2 separate regions of the Homo sapiens genome follow, and region 1 is linked to region 2. Evidence: fine-mapped expression QTL. Tissue or cell type: gastroesophageal junction. Region 2 holds a variant in brackets; the other region holds the start of a gene. All regions are shown on one strand. Distances are between the middles of the regions.

The links. PIP is the estimated chance that this variant, and not a neighbour inherited with it, causes the effect.
Region 1: ST7L starts here. The variant in region 2 is fine-mapped to the expression of ST7L in gastroesophageal junction (GTEx, PIP 0.95).

The regions. Positions count from the first base shown.
Region 1 is chr1:112,616,526-112,621,525 of GRCh38, forward strand. ST7L (suppression of tumorigenicity 7 like) reads right to left here and starts at 2,616. Exons shown (of 15, transcript NM_017744.5): 1 at 2,384-2,616; 2 at 288-370. The coding sequence starts at 2,588. CAPZA1 (capping actin protein of muscle Z-line subunit alpha 1) reads left to right here and starts at 3,307. Exons shown (of 10, transcript NM_006135.3): 1 at 3,307-3,358. The coding sequence starts at 3,320. RefSeq lists enhancers at 2,580-2,679, 2,788-3,987, 3,140-3,589.
Region 2 is chr1:112,517,931-112,522,930 of GRCh38, forward strand. WNT2B (Wnt family member 2B) reads left to right here. Exons shown (of 5, transcript NM_024494.3): 5 at 2,350-5,000. The coding sequence ends at 2,579. It also overlaps a transcript of ST7L not described here. Among named protein-coding and RNA genes, the nearest start is that of WNT2B, 11 kb to the left of the region's middle. The variant A/G (reference allele first, on the strand shown) is at 2,573.

The DNA of each region.
Region 1 (5,000 bases), 99 kb after region 2:
TGAGGTCAGGAGTTGGAGACCAGCCTGACCAATATGGTGAAATGCCATCTCTACTAAAAATACAAAAATTATCCGGGCATGGTGGCCGGCACCTGTAATCCCAGCTACTCGGGAGGCTGAGACAGAAGAATTGCTGGAACCTGGAAGGCGGAAGTTGCAGTGAGCCGAGATCATGCCACTGCACTCCAGCCTGGGCGACAGAGCAAGACTCTGTCTCAAAAAAGAAAAAAAAAAAATATCTTTAGATAAACACCAAAACATGAAGGAAGGAAATGGAAACTACTTACAAATATTAGTCCTGATATCAATGAAGAGGTCCCTGTAAGTGCCACATAGAATTTGGGTGTCAATGAATTTAAAAATACAGTCACTGTCAAAAGAACAAGAATCAAAGTTTTAAAAAATGCAAATTTAAAGTACTTAGGTTACAAATATGCAAGTATCTTTATGAGTGGTGGGACTTAAGTAGTATTAATATCTAGTGTGAAATTCACTTGAAAAAGTTTTAATTTGTATATATATTATACATAATGGCTTATCACTATTTGCAACAAATCAAAATGAGGTAATTCAGCTTGCTTTGGAGAATAAAACTAAAGCACTTATAAGTCATAATTTAGATAGAACTTTTGCAAGTCTGTAAGAATAAAAAGATAAATATGCTTTTACAAAGGAGGTTCAAAACTACTCCATATTTATTTTGGTAGGATACAAAACCACTGTCTCAAATTAGAGGGAAGGAAACAGCATATGTATTTGGTATATCAGCTAGAGAGGCAAAATGGCTCAAAGAGAAAAGCAACAAACAGAAATCTCCCTGAGTTACTGAAATCCTGGAGCAGATTTTTCACTTCAAATAATTATCTCATAAGTACTGTGGGTTTTAGAAAGAAAATAAAAATCTGGCCAGGTAGGATGGCTCACTCCCATAATCTCAGAGTTTTGGGAGGCCAAGGCAGGAGGATCACTGGTAGCCAGAAGTTCAAGACCAGCCTGGGCAAATAAAATAGACCCAGTCTCTACGCAAAATTTAAAACTCAGCCAGTCGTGGTGGTGCACGCCTGCAGTCCCAGCTACTTGGGAGGCTGAGGCCAGAGGATCGCTTAAGCAGAAGAGTTCAAGGCTGCAGTGATCTTGCCACTACACTTCAGCCTGGGTGACAAAGGGAGACTCTGTCTGTCTTTCTCTCTCTCACACACACACACACACACACACACACACACACACACACGAAACGTAAAAAAGAAAAATCTATAGTAATCAACTATTCTCATCTAAATGTTGCATATGGTTAACGTAGAAAAATAAATGACAAGTCAATCAGTAACACTGTGCATAGAAACCACCGTTAAGCACTTCATTCACCTGTTACAGAGATGCCAAATTAGCTCTTCAGTTTAGCTTATTTTAGAGTGCTAGTTATATTTGAACTTGATACCTATCCTCCAAAAAAACCAAAATATTTCCGAACATTAACTCACAGTCTTTCATGTCATCTCTGAACAGGAAAGGGGACATTTGCTGCCTTTTGCTTCAGAAAAATCAACCACCATACTGAATCATGTAATGGAAATACTTATATCTTGTTCTGAGGTTGCTGCTCAGATCTTGAGTGAAATATAATCACATGGTAAGGGGACCTGGGCCCTAAACACTTCATCCTGTCTACAGCTAAAGAATAGTACAGTATATGAGAATCCATCAGGATCATCACTTCTTACATGTGTTCGTATTGTCAGCACAGAATACGTAGCAAGTGTTCTACAGACGTCGAAAGAACTAGCAAACCCACTGTTGTTTGTGGCGCTCTCACTTCCTGTACTATTTTATTACTCAAGATAAGCCTAAAAGAACAGACAAAACTATCACGAAAACGATTTCTTAACAGAACTATTTTAAAACAAGAGAATCCTCAATTAAAATCATGCCATTTTCTTTCTCTGAAATCTTTAAATTACAGATGTGCTCATCTTTGTTGCCTGGATATGAGTTCTTTCAGCTGGGCAGCGGGAGACTCAAAGTAGTGACTTTTAAGGGATCCTACCAGAGGTGGGGGAGCCAATATAAATTACGTATCCTAATCTGAGACACTCTTCTGTCCTAATACCTGAAGCTTATAGCTTGTCAGGTGGCTTTTCCATGGAAAAACGAGGACATAAGAGAGAGGGCGGACCTTAAGAGTTCTACGGAGGAGCCGGTAACGGCAGCAGGCTTGTCAATCAACTGCAAGGTTGCAGCCCAAAAGAAAAAGAACTCACTTGATCGCTCATCATCGACTCCTCAGAGGCCCTCTAGGACTACCGAGAATCTCTTGCCCTTTGGCTCTTGCCCCCGACATCTCTCCTGGCCCCCCGCCCTGCCCCAGGAGGTCTGGTCCTCTCACCCGCTGCCAAATTCTCACACAGCCTCAAAGGGATCCTCAGGGCGTAAAGCAGCCCCAGCCCCGCCACGAACCACAACGAGGCCCCAGTCCCCGCCAGCCCGGCCCGCAGTCGCTCCCTCCAGCCTAGCGTCGGGTTTAGGCCAGGGACAGATGCAGGAGACGCTCCAACAGCTGCGGCTTCACCCACGCCGCCACGGTCCGCCATCTTGCCGCTATCGCAGGCGCCAGGAGCTGGGAGGGGAGAAGGACAGGAAACCGGGAGTCGGGAATCCTGGGATAGTGGCGGACCTGAAGTTGGCCTCTGTGAAGGCTGAGTCCTGGGGAACCGGGACCGAGAAGATTTCGAAGGTGGAGGAGCGTGTCTCAAGATTGGGGCTACCTGTTCTTTCGTGGGGCAGGGAAGGGGCGGACAGCAGCGCCTATTCTGGAGGAACTGGACTGAGATGTGACCCCGAAGTGTTACCGCTTCCAAACGAAATGAGGGTCACCTTTCACACCGCCCCCCCCCCGGGGTTGGAAAAGCCACCGATCGTTCCAGCTGCCGAGCAGCTCTTAAAGCTTTGGATTCGGCTGTCGTGGAGATAACGGGCACCAGAAAAACTTGTAGGAGTAGCAACAGCTATTTGGTCGGATGGAGGCCAGAAGCCAAGAATAATCGAAACACGCTGCCAGCGCCCATTAGATGGATGGGAAATGAGTGTAACTCATTGGGAAAGATATTAGACTTCAAATCACCTAAGGCAAACCCTACTTCCTGGGGCGCGGGCGCGGGCGCTGGCGTTAGGAGACGTCACTCCCGCGCATAACTGACATGGGGCCCTCTTGGTCGGCGTTTCCGGGCGGGTCCTTCCGACGGCCGCCGCGGTGATTCCATCACTCGGCTTTCTTCCCGGCCTGCCTCGCGCCCGTAGCCGGGCTGGGCCAGAACAGCCCAAGATGGCCGACTTCGATGATCGTGTGTCGGATGAGGAGAAGGTAAGGGGTCCGCCTCTCTCTCTTACCTCCTCCCCCGACAGGGAACTGGGGCCCGGCCCGGCTGCGTTGGGAGCCTAGCAGTGTCCCCAGGAAAAAGAAGCTTCTTGGTCCATGCTGACATACGCTCTCCGCAGTCGGGACGCTTCCCTCTTAGGGGGCTTTCCTCTGCCTCACGGTGGCCCCAGTTCCTCGTTCCTCGACTCTCCTTTTCTCTCAGGCCTGAGGCACAGCCCAGGGGCCTCCCTGCAAGGGAACAGACGTTTCCTTTATTGGATCGTGACTGTGGACTTTTTTCTGTAATTTTGCGAGAGGGTGGTGGTTATGTTGCGACATATCAAAAAGCAGTTATTTTACCGCCTTTAGCAGTTGGGGCTCACCCCATCCCCCCATTTGTAGATATAATTGGGGTTAGTTTAGGGCGAGTCACTTCCTGGTCAGGATGGCCTCTTAACTTCCCTTTTGCTCCTCCTTCCTCAGGAAGTGATTTTGCTGTCACGACTCTTCGACAAGGAGAGGTCCCAAATGTTGTCCATCTCCCTACACATGCACTACTTTTCTCCTGTACTGTCGCCTGTCTGATTCGCTATAATAAATCTGTGAGCCTCAGGGCATTTGCTTCAGAATTTGAACACCAGTCTTTCCCTATAGACACATCCCTTTTAACGATAATTTTTGAAAATTTTGTTTCTTGTTAACAAATCTAGAATAGCTGATGGATTTTCTTAACCTCCAGAAAGGTTTTCTGTAACACATAATAAACCTTATGTTAACACGTTCAAGACTGAACAAAGCATCCTGCCTTCTTTGATGCTCCACTGTGGAGTCTTTGATCAGTTGAATTTGTCAGTGTGCATTTTGTATGCTCATTTCTTGAAAAGGGTCTTAAATACAAGAGCACATTCTAAGGTGGAATAACTTTTCTTCTGACAGTTGCACAGTTTCATAACAGTTTGTCAGGCTTTTCAGTAAGTACATGGTTTTAGGGCACGTAGAACTTAGAATGACCTCACAAGGCAACTTATTGGACAAGAATTATGACATTTGTCTCCCACTGTGGCTATTAGAAAATGTGTCCCCTTGAGTGCTCTGTAAATCTACCTGGGTGTTTTTTTCAATAAGAAGTTGGGATGGGAAGGGGACTGTTATGATCCATAAGTCCTCTGTACGGAATAACTTGATATATGTAGATATGGCATGCCATTTTGAAATGTTTAACAAGCCATTGACAACAGCGTTAGATTTTCTCTTATTTGGAAACTGATCTTCATACATGTTTAAGATTTAGGACAAAAACATTTATGTATAAGCCTATGCTGGAAATCGATCTATAATAAATTGTTCTAAGGCAAATAGTTACTATTCAAATAAAATTAAGCAAAAATCCTGTTACAATACAACTAAACAATTTTTTTTTTTTTTTGAGACGGAGTCTCGCTCGGCTCACTGCAACTTCCGCCTCCCTGGTTCAAATTATTCTCCTGCCTCAGCTTCCCGAGTAGCTGGGATTACAGGCACCCGCCACCAAGTCCAGCTAATTTTTGTATTTCTTGTAGAGAGTGGGTTTCGTCTTGTTGCCCAGGCCGGTCTCAAACTCTTGGGCTCAAACGATCCATCCGTCTTCGCCACTTAAAGTGCTGGGATT
Region 2 (5,000 bases):
TAGTAGGTGGGAAAGCACATGATCTGTCCCAGGGACAGAGAACAGACCAATCTGCTGGGTAAAGGTTCTCTCTAAGGGAGATTAAAGCTAGAAAGATGTCCTTGAAAGGCTTTATCCAGTGTGCTGCCATTGAAGATTCTGAAACAGCTGAAAAAGAAACGAAGAAGAGATCCCTACCAAAGGCAGGTAAAGCAGCAAATGGTTGTTTTTCAGTCTGTTCGAGGTATTTGTGGTGGGATTCTTGGAGGTGCTGGAAGTTGATATGGTTTTTCCCCAAGGGAATGAAAGTTACCATCCTGGCTCACATTTCTGGTTCAGATAGGTTAAACTAGGAACATGCAATGCAGCAGAACTCTTCTCCTCTGGTTATTGCTGTGGGGCTCCCAGGCTCTTTTCTACAGGCTCAGCGTCAGGACTTGGGTGAAGTGGAGCCAAAAAACCTCAGCTATCTTCGGTACTGTTTGTTTTCACCCATCACTGTCATTCCTGGAAGAGTCAAGTGGCTTGGAGTAAAACTGGGCACAGAAAAAGGGTGGGGCTCTACCCAATTAATGAAGAAAGTAGTCTGTATACTTTGTAGGGTGCTAGAAGAAAAAAACTTGGAGCCCTTCTGATTTTCCTAGTGATTTCCTGCCACTAAGTATACTTTCCTCCCACTTGGTCTAATTCAGAGGGTCACTCTCTGGATACCTAGAAATAATTCCATAACATCTGAGGTGTAAACCTATACTACCATACTGAAAATACACCTTTAGGGAAGGAACTTTGGAGTTAGGAGGGAGGATAAGTCAAATGTGTGTTCGTTTTTCTCAGAGGCATAAAATTAGGCCTCCTAAAACCCAAAGTGGGCCCTGGAATTCAAAGAATATAAGTCATCCCAGAAAGAATATGGAGCCAGGAATTCCCTCCAAAGCAATAGAGTCCAATTGAACTTTCTGTGATGATAGAAATGTTTTCCTATCTCTGTTGTCCAATACAGTAGCAACTAGCCACATGTGATTACTGAGTACTTGGAATATAACTAGTGTGACTGAGGAGCTAAATTTTTTAGTTTAATTTTCATTAATTTAGATGTAAAAGACCATATGTGACTAGTGGCTGCTACCCTGGACAGCACAGCTCCACAGTGTAGAAGGGGTTTTTGGTGCCCAAGAGGACTTAAGACCCAGCCCTTGGAGTTAGGAGACTAACATATACAGTAGACCTAGTCAGTCCACATTCCAGACCAGTGGTCTCCTAACATTCTGGATCCTTTACTCCTATCATTAAAACAATTTGAGCATATATCTCCATTATATGTATATTTATTTATACCTGTGTTCCACTATATGAATATGTATATTATAAAACGTAAATATTTTAAATTGATGAGATAAAAAACATAGAAGTTCTAGCATTTTCCTCCCGTATCCCAGTGACATTTGGAGACTAATTCTGTAGAAATCAGTTAATCTATTCTCCGTTTTGAACCTAGGCTAGTCAGTTTCCCATCTCTGGATTCTTATTAACCATGGAAAAGCTTGGAGTAGATGCTCTCATGGGCCCAACTCATCCAAAAGTCTATTGATTTTATGATCTGTTGGCAGGATCTCTTTTGCTAAAATCAGTCAGAATGAGGTTCTAAGCATTCCCTATGCATGGGGAAAACATGATCCCTATCCTAGAGTTTCCACTGTAAGGGGAAGGGATAATGCTTAGGGATAATAGCAATAATAATAATGCAAGGGATATTACTTAGGAATTCCTTAGGAATATGCCTCCAGCCAGTCATGGTAATCAGTTCACCTCTTCAGATGAACAGAGATTATATCTAACAATCTATTATTGTGCTTATTTTCATATGAGAAACTAAGTTAATGTTTCATTTTGACTAAATCACACAACTAAGAGTGGTAGAACTGGGATTTGAATCCAGACAAGATGATGTCAGAGCCCATGCTTCTTTTTTTTTTTTTTTTTTTTGGAGACAGAGTTTCACTGTCACCCAGGCTAGAGTGCAGTGGTGCAATCTTGGCTCACTGCAGCCTCGACCTCCCAGCCTCGTGTTACTTTCACCTCAGCCTCCTGAGTATCTAGGACTACAGGCTCATGCCCATGGCACCTGGCTAATTTTTTAAGTTTTTGTAGAGACAGGGCTTGCTATGTTTCCCAGGCTGGTCTTGAATTCCTGGACTCAAGGATTCCTTCTGCCTTGGCCTTCCAAAATGCTGGGATGATAGGCATGAGTGAGCCACTGTGCCCAGCCCAAAAAAGCGATTCTTTTTATCTTCCTTCTGAGAATGTGGTTAAGGGTATCCAGGGCAGCTGAAGAGATAACTTTGTTCTCACTCCCTCTCTTCCCCAACCCAGGTTCCCTAGGCACTGCAGGCCGTGTCTGCAGCAAGACATCAAAAGGAACAGACGGTTGTGAAATCATGTGCTGTGGCCGAGGGTACGACACAACTCGAGTCACCCGTGTTACCCAGTGTGAGTGCAAATTCCACTGGTGCTGTGCTGTACGGTGCAAGGAATGCAGAAATACTGTGGACGTCCATACTTGCAAAGCCCCCAAGAAGGCAGAGTGGCTGGACCA[A/G]ACCTGAACACACAGATACCTCACTCATCCCTCCAATTCAAGCCTCTCAACTCAAAAGCACAAGATCCTTGCATGCACACCTTCCTCCACCCTCCACCCTGGGCTGCTACCGCTTCTATTTAAGGATGTAGAGAGTAATCCATAGGGACCATGGTGTCCTGGCTGGTTCCTTAGCCCTGGGAAGGAGTTGTCAGGGGATATAAGAAACTGAGCAAGCTCCCTGATTTCCCGCTCTGGAGATTTGAAGGGAGAGTAGAAGAGATAGGGGGTCTTTAGAGTGAAATGAGTTGCACTAAAGTACGTAGTTGAGGCTCCTTTTTTCTTTCCTTTGCACCAGCTTCCCGATACTTCTTGGTGTGCAAGAGGAAGGGTACCTGTAGAGAGCTTCTTTTTGTTTCTACCTGGCCAAAGTTAGATGGGACAAAGATGAATGGCATGTCCCTTCTCTGAAGTCCGTTTGAGCAGAACTACCTGGTACCCCGAAAGAAAATCTTAGGCTACCACATTCTATTATTGAGAGCCTGAGATGTTAGCCATAGTGGACAAGGTTCCATTCACATGCTCATATGTTTATAAACTGTGTTTTGTAGAAGAAAAAGAATCATAACAATACAAACACACATTCATTCTCTCTTTTTCTCTCTACCATTCTCAACCTGTATTGGACAGCACTGCCTCTTTTGCTTACTTGCTGCCTGTTCAAACTGAGGTGGAATGCAGTGGTTCCCATGCTTAACAAATCATTAAAACACCCTAGAACACTCCTAGGATAGATTAATGTAGTAAGTCTGGCTAGGCCTTGTGTTGCCTTTTTTTTTTTTTTTTTTTTCTTTTCTTTTCTTCTCTTCCCATGCACTATTCTGGAGGTTTGCCAGGTTTGGGGAGACATGGAGTAAAAGAAAGATAGGCAACTCATGGATGGTGGGAGAGCAGGTAAGCAGGTCTGATCTCAAGGGCCCACATGAGGCATCAGTATATATTAGGCAGGTAGGGATCTCTGGCTTTGGTAATTCTTTATGAGAGGATCCTAGCCTTTGAAGCTGGGAGCAGGAGTCAGTGGCTACAGTGGGAAGGAGTACTGCAGGTTGGGGCCAAAGTGATACACAGCTTAGAAGGCAGCCTTCCTCCACTTACTCAACAAATCTTTATTTAGTGACTCTCCAAGTCCTAGTGATTATTATTATTGTTCACTCCACATTTGGCTTAATGGGTAATGCTATTACCCATTGCCTAACTAGGTTTGCAGTAGTGGAATCTCCAGAGATAGCAGGCTTAGTAAGCTGGAGGTAGGACATGAAGTCCCCCAAAACTTGATGTCCTATTTTTATGTGAGTTGGACAGTGGTTATCTTTTGCCTGTTGATATCTTAAAGCAGCAGAGTGGTATAGAAATTTGCGGTTATGACAGACCCGGGTTAAAAATCACAGCTGTGCCATTTGCTTTGATATTTTGAGCAAGGTAGCTAAATTTTCTGAGCTTCTATTTTCTCATCTGTAAAATGAGGATACGTACCTGTTCTTTTTTTTCTTTCTTTTTATTTCTTTTAGAGATAGGGTCTCGCTTTGTTGCCCAGGCTGGAGTGCACTGGCATGATCATGGCTCACTGCAGCCTCAAATTCCCAGGCTCAAGCAATCCTCCCACCTCAGCCTCCCCATTAGCTGGGACTACAGGGCCATGCCATCATGCCCAGCTAATTTAAACATAGTTTTCAGAGATGGAGCTCACTATGTTGCCCAGGCTGGTCTTGAATTCTTGGTCTCAAGCAATCCTCCCACTGCAGCCTTCCAAAGTGCTGGGCGTACAAGCGCAAGCCACTGTGCCCAGCTGTCAGACGCTGAGTTTTAATTATGCACCAAACTCCAGCCCGCAGATCCTCTTCACCAAAGCCCCTGGCTGGTCTAGCCCATCATGACTTCTCTAGGAACAGTCCTTCTTTAGGACTATAAAGTATTAACAAAAGTCTGTAGATTAAGGAGCCTGCATAAAGAATTCTGGATACAGGCCCCTGTCTTTCCAAAGTTCCTCTCCAATATCCCTTGGGGTCCTCATGTTTTTGAAGCAGCTTCACTCTGCACAGGCAGCAGGAGGTTGGGGGAGCCATAGCTCTGGGCCACGGGGGCAGATTTATTTGGATGATAGGACTAATATTTGTGTAACCTGCTGAGACCTGTGTGGGAGAGTTTAGGGTGGTTTTTCTTTTGGTGAGGGGATTTGCTCTGGTTTCACATCCATTAACACAAAACATGAGCTAGTCAGGGCCCTTGTGGTCTGCGGTAAGGGGATGCCTGTGGAGAAATGGGCCTGAGTGAGTCAGGCCAAGAGAATGTCTTCCTTCAGAATGGAGTCAACTGGATAACTGATGAGCCAATGGTGGGATTAAGGAGGGGGAAATGGGAGGGGAAGAGAACAGCTGACATCTTGAGGAAA